2 linked regions of the Homo sapiens genome follow. The protein of the gene in region 2 interacts with the protein of the main gene of each other region in a pairwise test. Each region holds a gene or a part of one and is shown on either strand. Other genes may lie near its edges.

Region 1 (5,359 bases), on a different chromosome or scaffold from region 2:
AAATTAGCTGGGCATGGTGGTACGCACTTGTAATCCCAGCTACTCGGGAGGCTGAGGCAGGAGACTCACTTGAACCCAGGAGGCGGAGGCTGCAGTAAGCCGAGATTGCACCACCGCACTCCAGCCTGGGCAACTGAGCCAGAATCCATCTCAAGATAAAAAAAATAAATAAATAAATAAATAAATAAATAAATAAAAGAAGCTCCAATTCTGGTCGGGTGCAGCAGCTCATGCCTGTAACTTTGGGAGGCTGAGGGAGGTGGATCACCTGAAGTCAGGAGTTTGAGACCAGCCTGGCCAACATGGAGAAACGCCGTTTCTACAAAAATTAGCTGGACATGGTGGTGAGTGCCTGTAATCCCACCTACTTGGGTGGCCGAGGCAGGAGAATCACTTGAATCCGGGAGGCAGAGGTTGCAGTGAGCTGAGTTCGCGCCACTGCACTCCAACCTGGGTGACAGAGCAAGACTTTGTCTCCAAAAAAAAAAAAAAAGAGAGAGAGAGAGAGTCCAATTCCCAATTCAACAAATTAGGAAAGTAGCAAAGCTGTTTTGCCTGATGTCCCAATATTCCAGTTTGGAACCAAGAAACTAAGGACTGCAAACAGATCTCTGGATGTTAAGCAGTAGTGATTAAAACAAAATCAACTCTAAACTATCCAAACTCTGGTTTGATTACTGAGATCCTACTAATGGAGGAAATCAATGAGAATGAAGAAACCTGGGAGAGATCTGACAAGTAACCCACTGCCCTCAACAAAACAGGCTGAAAACAGAAAGGAAACCGCTCTTAGAATATGTATCTTAAAATCTGATCAGTCAGGAGATGACTTAGGGCCAACTAAAGGACAAAAATAGGCAGGGCACAGTGGCTCACGCCTGTAATCCCAGCACTTTGGGAGGCCAAGGCAGGCAAATCACGAGGTCAGGAGTTCAAGGCCAGCCTGGCCAATATAGTGAAACCCTGTCTTACTAAAAATACAAAAATTAGCCAGGTGTGGTGGTACGCACCTGTAATCCTAGCTACTCAGGAGGCTGAGGCAGGAGAATCGCTTGAACCTGGGAGGTGGAGATTGCAGTGAGCCGAGACGGCGCCATTGCACTCCAGCCTGGGTGACAGAGCAAGACTCTGTCTCAAAAATAAAAAAAGAAAAAAATATGTATGTGGGAGATCTTTATTTTTGTTAAGAATTAGGCCAGGCACAGTGGCTCACACCTGTAATCCCAGCACTTTGGGAGGCCAAGGCGGGTGGATCACGAGATCAGGAGTTCAAGACCAGCCTGGCCAAGATGGTGAAACCCCGTCTCTACTAAAAATACAAAAAAAAAAAATTAGTCGGGTGCGGCAGCAGGCGCCTGTAATCCCAGCTACTCAGGAGGCTGAGGCAGGAGAATCGCTTGAACTCAGAGGGCGGAGGTTGCAGTGAGCCGAGATCGTGCCACTGCACTCCAGCCTGGGTGACAGAGTGAGACTCTGTCTCAAAAAAAAAAAAAAAAAAAAAAAAGAATTATTGAGCAATGAATTTGAAATACTAATAAGACCTCAAAATTATAAGAAAAAAATTAATATTTTTAAAAGATTTAAGAGTTGAATATTCAGTGAAGGTCTCTACATGATATGTAAATGTGGAATTAAAAAAAAAAAAAAAGGCCTGGGCACAGTGGCTCATGCCTATAATCCCAGCACTTTAGGAGGACAGGAGAATCAACCGAAACAGGGGAACAGAGGTTGCAGTGAGCTGAGATCGCTCCACTGCACTCCAGCCTGGGCAACAAAGTGCAACTCCATCTCAAAAAAAAAAAGGAAAACAGAAAACGAAACATCACATTTTGAACTAATATTCAGAATCTGGGCAAATTCCACTGCTTATTTATAAAACAAACTGATCACTTATTTACATAGTTCCTCAGCCTATAGCTTAGTTATAGCAGTAAGAAAGGGAACTGACTTCTGGCAACAGAAATACTAAATGATAGATGCTAAGTGACAGCTGACAGCCTAAGGAGAGAGGAAAATTACAAGATGCAAACACAAAAACTGCTTCAAAAAGCAAGACAATCTGAGTAAAGGCTTTAGCATAGACCGGGGCAAATAATTTAATATATCTCAATTGTCCCCTACCCCAATTCAACAAAGTATGGTAATTAATGTTTAAGAATCTTGAGTTGGCCAGGCGCAACGGCTCACATCTGTGATATTACCTAGCACTTTGGGAGGCCAAAGTGGGCAGACTGCTTCAGCTCAGGAGTTTGAGACTGGCCTGGGCAACAAGGCAAAACCCCATCTCTAATAATAATACAAAAATTAGCCAGGCAAGGTGATGTGTGCCTGTAGTCCCAGCTACTTGGGAGGCTAAGGCAGGAGGATCACTTGAGCCCAGGAAACAGAGGTTGCAGTGAGCTGAGATTGCTCCATGGCACTCCAGCCTGGGTGACAGAGCCAGACCCTGTCTCGTTAAAAAAATAAAAACTCTTGAGTCAACGTGACATAGCTAAATTATGTTCTGTATACCACTTAGATTCAAAACTTTTTCAGACATTTTACAATTCATGAAAACAGTTTTTTAAAAAAACACAATGCTTTTAAAAAGTAGCTTAACGGGTAGAACATTTTGCACCCCAGCTCTACATGACCAAAGAGGTGTCAATGAACGAGGATAAGTTCATTCTAACAAATCAGTAAAATTTAAGATCAGTTTGAGGGCAGGAACAGTGGCTCACACCTGTAATCCCAGCACTCTGGGAGGCCGAGGTGGGTGGATCATTTGAGGTCCGGAGTTCGAAACCAGCCTGACCAAATGGTGAAACCCCATCTCTAATAAGAAAAAAAAAATTAGCTGGGCATGGTGGTGCATCCCTGTAATCCCAGCTACTCGGGAGGCTGAGGCAGGAGAATCACTTGAACCCAGGAGGTGGAGGTTGCAGTGAGCTGAGATTGCGCCACTGCGCTCCAGCCTGGGCAAGACAGTGAAACTCCGTCTCAAAAAAAAAAAAAAAAAAAAAAAGGAAAATCAGCTTGAATTAAATGAGAATTTCTTTTCTAGACATCATTTGTTAAAAAACAAAGAAAGCTCCTCTTTAAATAAGTGTTATATCTGAAAGAATTCTAGATGTACTGCCCAAGAAATCAATTGTTTCCAGATTTTTTAAATTAAAACTACTAAAATTGGCCCTACCCAGTGGCTCACACCTATAGCCCCGGAATTTTAGGAGGCCAAGGCACAAGGACTGCTTGAGTCCAGCAGTTCGAAACCAGCCTGGACAACATAGAGAGACCCCCATCTCTACAAAAAAAATTGTTTTTAATTGGCCAGCCGTGGTGACGCATGCCTGTAGTCTCAGCTACTCAGGGGACTGAGGTGGGAGAATCAGTTGAAGCTGGCAGGTTTGAGGTTGCTGTGAGCTATGATCCTGCCACTGCACTGCAGCCTAGGCAACAGTGTGGGGCTTGTCTCGAAAAAAGAAAAAGAAAAAAATATAAAATTACTAAAATTGATTTATATATTTCAAAGTTTTTCCTATAATGAATACTGGAATCTCAAATCTTCAGAATATCAAGCAAATTCTAAATTTGCTCAAAGACCTTGACTTGAAATCTGACTCAATTTTGATCAAGTTCATTTCAAAACCCTACAGTTTGATTTATAAGAGTAAGTTTTATCTTTACTCATGAGCCAAACCTAGCATCTATTTATTTCTGTGTCTCTAAACTTCAGGTGCCACCTTAAATAACTGCTAGCACATTCCTTTATTTTTAAACAGTCATCCCTCTTAGCTCCTATTCTTTATTTTATTTCCTAGTCTTGACCAACCCAGTAAGAGTCAGACTAGAGCTTCTAAGGAATCTTAAAGATCACCTAGCATAGTCCCCTAGCCAATGTCTGAATTCCCTATTTAAAATCCCTGTTAAGTGGCTACGCAGCCTCTGCTTAAACAGCAGCTTGAGGTCAAGAACCAGCCTTACCTTTGTATTTTTAATACCTAGCACTATATGCCTAGCATGTAGTAGGGACTCATCTATCAAATATCTATTATTTGTTGAATGAATTCTGAATGACAGTGCAGCTCATTAATTCCCAAGGTAGCCTTTTACAAGGTTATTCTGCTACCACAAAACTCTTGGTCTCTTTCACGTTTGATATCCCTCTACTCCATGAAGCACCAAGGAAGCCCAACAGTTTCTAAGGCTGCATTTTTCAGAGATATAAATTAAACAATACAAATGATGGGGACACGCACAACACTAACCATGATAAAATGTTGCAAGCTAATTTTACCTAATATGCTGTGGTAAGCCATAAACACATTTATAACAAATTATCCTAACTGTATGTTAAAAACAATTAAGAAAAGCACAATGTTTATGATACAACAAAACATTCAGAGGCATGCCAGATTTTCTCATCTATTCTGCATTTGTGTCAACATACAAATTAGGTTTTCAAAAAAAGAACAATATAATTAAATGGTTCAGCAGTAATGCTACTAATCAGGAATAAAAATTAGATACCAAATTATGAGTATCTACTGCCTGGTATCTTACCTTTCAACATAGGAATCATTTATTTTTATGTGTATTTAAATTTTAAAATACAATACATTATATAACTTGCCAAAGAAGTGGATCATTTAGTAGCTTAAGTTAGAGCCTTAACATTTCAAAATGCTCTTATCACCCAATTTCCCCATCATTATTTACCCCAAAATGAACAGATAGCATCCTCATTTCAAACACATAAGCAAAATTTCAGACACAAAAATTTCATTCCAAAGGTTCTTTCCTCTTAGGTCATAAAACTCCAAATGTCTATGAATGTACAATTTAAACAATTCCAAAATATACAGTAAAAAAATATAAAATAAGTAAAAACTAAGAAACATTTTATGAAAGTTTCTCTAAATTTCTGCACCTTCCTATGCTTATTCTGTATACGTGACCCTTTGATAATCAGATTTCCTAATGAAGAACCACTCTATTTTAGTGATACGATGCTAATCAGTCTCATAATGAAAAATAATTTAGAGAGCTTGATTTCATTTACAAAAAACTTCTTGTCACTCCTTTCTAAATACAAAAGCTATTCCACCTGCTCAGCATTATTCATACAAGTATTCGAATTTGTACCAAAAAAAACCCTTTAAAATTCTTAGACATTTTTTTTTTCCCTTGAGACAGGGTCTTGCTCTGGGGAACAGTGGTATAATTATAGCTCACTGCATCCTCCAACTCCTGGGCTCAAGGGATCCTCGTGCCTCAGCCTCCAGAGTAGTCAGGACTATTGGCCCATGCCACCAAGCCTGACTAATTTTTTTTTAATTTTTTTTGTAGAGACAGGGGTTGCACTATGTTGCCCAAGCTG
Region 2 (5,359 bases):
TGGACAGAGGGGACATACATTACTCAGTGGAAAATACTGAGCAAAACAATGGGGTGGGGTGGGGATGATAAATCACAAAAGTCCTGCATAAATAGGATGTCTAATCAATTTGTCTGCCTGGGATTCAAGTAAAGACAGTGGTGTGTGGGAGCTTATATGGACTAGCTTGTGAGAGCTGGCTGTTAAAGTTTTAGGAATTTTGCAAGCCAGTTATTAAACACAGCCATTCTAAACAATTAAATTACATGAACTTCCAATTAAACAAGTTATATTTTTTAAAAGGAAAAAATATTCAAAACTCATCATATTCTAATCCTTTTGCTACTGTCCATGCTCTTGAAATTATATATATTAAACCTATTTTATCTTTATGGTGAGAATATATATAATGGTGCATGTTTTCTGAACTCTTCAATGAGTGACATGACGTTAATAACTTGAACTTGGCCATCGTAGGAGTATTTACATCACAGAAACAGGCAAACGCTATAAATCAGGTTCCTCTGCCCTCATAAAACCAGTTGTTAAGCATTTACCAGCACATCACTAAGTGAAGGGCAGAGGAATTCAAGCTAGATTTGAAGATATAAAATTAAAAGGTGGTTTTAGGGGATTCACTCTTGGTTTTTAAAGAATAATGGGAGAGGAAAGGTTTTAATCTTCAAAATCCAATTTGGGCTTTTCCCTCTTTTGTCAAATTCTACAACATAACCTGAGAGCACCATTTCTGTTGTAAGAATATTCCCCCTAGTCAATGTGAAGGAAAAGGTTTTCTCAGCCTTGAGATCAAAGGAGATAGGTTTGAATAACCCTTATTTCTAACAGTGTTTATAGACAAAATGGTAAAAACTGTCTTAAGGCCGGGCGCGGCACTTCATGCCTGTAATCCCAGCACTTTGGGAGGCTGAGGTGGGCAGATCACCCGAGGGCAGGAGTTCAAGACCAGCCTGGCCAACATGGTGAAACCCCGTCTCTACTAAAAATACAAGAATTAGCTGGGCATGGTGGCACACACCTGTAATCCCAGCTACTTGGGAAGCTGAGGCGAGAGAATCACTTGAACCTGGGAGGCAGAGGTTGCAGTGAGTCGAGATTGTGCCATTGCACTCCAGCCTTCCAGCTTGGGCAACAGAGTAAGGCTCTGTCTCAAAAAAAAAAAAAAAAAAAAAAAAAAGAACTATTTTAAATGAGGATGATATCTAAAAAATAGGATATCTGTTCATTCTAAAAATACATTTCCTTAAGTTCATCAGAAAAAGAGTATCTCATAATATAAAAACTATATGCAAAACTTAAATCCATAGGAACATTTTTAGGTAATGATCTATAATACACATTACATTATCCACATTAAAAAATATTAAGAGGAGAATCTACTGAAGAACAAAGAAAGCATACTTGGCCAAATTTTCAACTGATTCCCTGTCATTAGCAAATATGTTATAAGCTCCGTTGCTCTTCCATAAGAATCCCACTGAACCTTGACTGAATGCAACCACGGCAGGAACTTGGTTGTTTTCCTTCTTTGAGAATGTCGTATGGAACTGCAGACCATCCTCAGGATAAAGGAAAATGGCATAGGAGCTGGAATCAGAGGAGGCTAGAACAGCCTGGAACGTGTTTCTCTGTGAAGATGAGTTAAAATTCAGTTACTCGGAAAAATATCGATAGATTTTAAAATGTGTTATTCGCCAGACTATCTATAAAGCGTACAGTGCTATAGAGCGATGGCAATATTCTCACCTTATTCTAAAAGAAGGACTTTTGTAGCAAGAACCTAGGATTCTGGGATAGTTCCACTGAAATATCCCTAAGGCTATGTCAACATGACATTTTCTGATTAATTCATAAATATCTTCTGCATAACTGTGGCCCTAAGGTTAACCAAAAATTATACAGATGGTACCTCCAGATGGTGGCCTAAAATCTCACGCAGTTTAGGAAATTCTTACCCAAAGACTTTGTTTCCATGGCTGTTAACATATTCAACCGCATTCATCGTTTAACAAACATTTATTGAACCCAAGCACCGTACAGTAGAAAAAACAAAACAAAACATGAGATTTGGGAGAAAACAGACCTGGATCCAAATCTTTGCTCTACTCATTATTATGTGACTTGGGCGTGATACTTGAGTTCCCTAAGCCTCGATGTTTGCATCTGTAAAATGGAGATAAAACCACCTCCTTCACAGAAATGAGGAAGACTACATGAGGTCACGTATGAAAGAGCAGGCACATGCCGGGCGCGGTGGCTCATGCCTGTAATCCCAGCACTTTGGGAAGGCTGACATGTGAAGAAAACATTGCAAAACCTGAGGTTGGATTCTGTAATCGAAACATTTGCAAAGCGCTGCAGGAGCCGTAAGAGGAAGCGTCCCATGCCAGGAGCGGTGGGAGTGCATCCCATGCCAGGAGGCTGTGGTTGGTCAAGGCCTCACGGGAGGGCCCAGTCTGAATGAACAAGCAGGAGGAAGCTGCCACCTGTAGGGGGGTCAGGGAGAGGACGTCCCAAACAGAGAGGACAGCCTGTGCAAGATACTGCGGATAAAAAAAAAAGAGCAAGGGCAAGGTCAGGGAATTACATGTAATTTGGTATAGCGGCTGCAAAGGGTATGCGGAGGTGGAACAGATTAGGCCCAAGAGGCAAGCAAGGGATCCATACCAATGGGTTAGGCATTTATCACCCAAGTGAAAGGGAGGCAGCTGAGACACTTAACATTTAAGCTGTTTTCAAGTTTGGCACTCAGACAGATAACAGTTGGCAAGCAAAATGTGTCATGCAGGCCCCTAACAGACTTTCCCAAAGTGTGCTCTGTGGGATGTAATGCATCTTTTTTGGAGCGGGGGAAGGGAAGAGGTATGGTCACAGGTTTGGAGACTGCTCAGTTAAACAATATTCGGCAAGGCTGGAATGGTGGCTCACGCCCTTAGTCCCAGCTACCTGGGAGGCTGAGGCAGGAGAATCACTTGAACCCAGGAGGTGGAGATTGCAATGAGCCAAGATGGCACCACTGCACTCCAGCCTGGGTGACAGAGCAAGACTCTGTCTCAAAACAAAAACAAAAACAAAAACAAAAAAAGTAGTATTAGGCAAGTTGCAAGTTTCCTGACTGCAGGACTTTTCAGAGTGAACAGGGTGAATCACCAAGAGGGAGATATAGTTTTAGCATTTCCCAAACTAGAAGGCCTTTTCCTCAAGGTGTATCTTGTAGGACTGGTGTTTTGTGGTACACACTTTAGGAACCACCAGCCTGAAATACCTCCCATTTATATGAAGTGCTTTGGGACCCTTCAAGTTTCTTTCTTCCTCATTTTCCTATAAAGGTGAAGTTATGGTAGAGAGAAATTATTTTTCCAAGGGAAAATCGAGGCCTGTCCTAAAAAGTCACTTCAGGTCTAACAACGAGTTCCTGACCTACTCAAAGACCCTGCTTCCTTCAAGGGCAAGTCCGTGCTCTACAGCCTGGTCCTTCCAGCCGTCCCTGATGACTGCGCCCACGGAGAGGCCAACCCTGGGTTATGACAATACTTGGGTTTTGAACCACTCACATGGTCCAAATGATTCTTGTCTCCCCAACTAGAGTCTGGGCTTTACCTTTCTATCTTTGCATCCCTCAGGAGTACTTTGTTATTTTAACCTATCGTTTCATATTAATAATTTCTCTAGTCAGAAACTATCCTTCCAGCCGGGCTCGGTGGCACACACCTGTAATCCCAGCACTTTGGGAGGCTGAGGTGGGTGGATCATTTGAGGTCAGCAGTTGGAGACCAGCCTGGCCAATGTGGTGAAACCCCATCTCTACTAAAAATACAAAAATTAGCCAGTGTGGTGGCCCATGCCTGTAATCCCAGCTACTCGGGAGGCTGAGGCACAATAATTGCTTGAACCTGGGAGGTGGAGGCTGCAGAGAGCTGAGATTGTGCCACTGTACTCCAGCCTGGGCAACAGAGCAAGACTCCATCTCAAAAAAAAAAAAAAAAAAAAAAAAAAGGCCGGGCATGGTGGCTCACGCCTGTAATCCCAGCACTTTGGGAGGCTGAGAAGGGTGGATCACGAGATCAAGAGATAGAGACCATCCTGGCTAACATGGTGAAACCCTGTCTCTACTAAAAATACAAAAAAAACCAGCCGGGCGTGGTGGTGGTCGCCTGTAGTCCCAGCTACTCGGGAGGCTGAGACAGGAGAATGGTGTGAACCGGGGAGGCGAAGCTTGCAGTGAGCCAAGATCGTGCCACTGCACTCCAGCCTGGGCGACAGAGCGAGACTCCATCTCAAAAAAAAAGAAAAATAAATAAATAAATAAATAAATTATCCTTCCACTATCTGCCACCTGAGGTAAGAGCAGCCAGGGGATGCCATTTATCAACCCTATTTTTGCCACATAGCAGTCTTACCAGGAATTGCTTTGCTTTATGTCTACTTGTCATTAAAACGTAGAGTTATACAACCTTGCAGATAAGCTTTTGGAGGTTTGGGACCTGCAATAACCAGCCTACTAGATTTTGCTTTGGATTTCCTGTCTTTATCAATGGTGTATAACTTATGTCAAAGCAGCACAAGGCGTGAGACCAAAGTGTATGAAGCCAATGTGTCTGATTACCTGCACTTGGACCTGGAGGGGAGCTTACCTTGCCTTTCTGGTCTGGGTCCCTGCTGGGCCCTTGGTAGGGGGCCACGGATTCCCAAGTGACAACCACCGCGCTACTAGGCTGGAAAGAGATCTCCGGGAACCCTCTGTGGACACACTCTGCTGCTCGCTGAGTGATGGAGGGGGATAAGTCTTCTCGATAATAAACCTTCCCCAGGCCATCGGTCGTGTCCAAGTCCGCCAGGAAAGGGGCGACTGCACCGAATGTTGGTGGGAAGAGCCCGGGATGGGATTCTTTGGCCGGGGGTTCACTCGTAGCAATGATGCCATTTGTGGTGACCTGTACAAAACCAAGTGTGGTTAAAAGGAATGCAGAAACGGGTCCTTTCTCAGTAAGACTGAGCACCCACTCCTAGAATACTGTCAGCTGTACCCATGCTGTGTAGAATACAACAGAATCTGAGAAAGATACGAGCCTGAACCGCATACCCCAGCATTCATTTCTAGGCAAAATGGGCTGTGTGGAAAGAGAACAGGAGTCATTATTCAAATCCTAGTGAATTTACTCGAAAAAGGGAGTAATCACTCCCTACCAGGACTGCTAATTGGTGTGCGTACAAACATGGTTAGGAGCCTGGGCATCAAAGTGAGATCCCATCTCTACACAAAAATACCAAAAATTAGCCAGGCTTGGTAGCTCGGGCCTGTAGTTCCAGCTACTTGGGAGGCTGAGCTGGGAGGATGGCTTAAGCCCCGGGAGGTCAAAGC

What was found. The genes of interacting proteins can lie anywhere in the genome.
Region 1: the proteins of NID1 (region 2) and SKIL interact in a two-hybrid assay, tested with the Homo sapiens proteins (one large-scale study listed by BioGRID and IntAct).

The regions. Positions count from the first base shown.
Region 1 is NC_000003.12:170,373,688-170,379,046, reverse strand, and holds part of SKIL (ski-like protein), read right to left. Parts: intron 1-5,359. UniProt on the Homo sapiens protein: May have regulatory role in cell division or differentiation in response to extracellular signals.
Region 2 is NC_000001.11:236,044,059-236,049,417, forward strand, and holds part of NID1 (nidogen-1 precursor), read right to left. Parts: intron 4,932-5,359; coding exon 4,632-4,931; intron 1,626-4,631; coding exon 1,399-1,625; intron 1-1,398. UniProt on the Homo sapiens protein: Sulfated glycoprotein widely distributed in basement membranes and tightly associated with laminin. Also binds to collagen IV and perlecan. It probably has a role in cell-extracellular matrix interactions.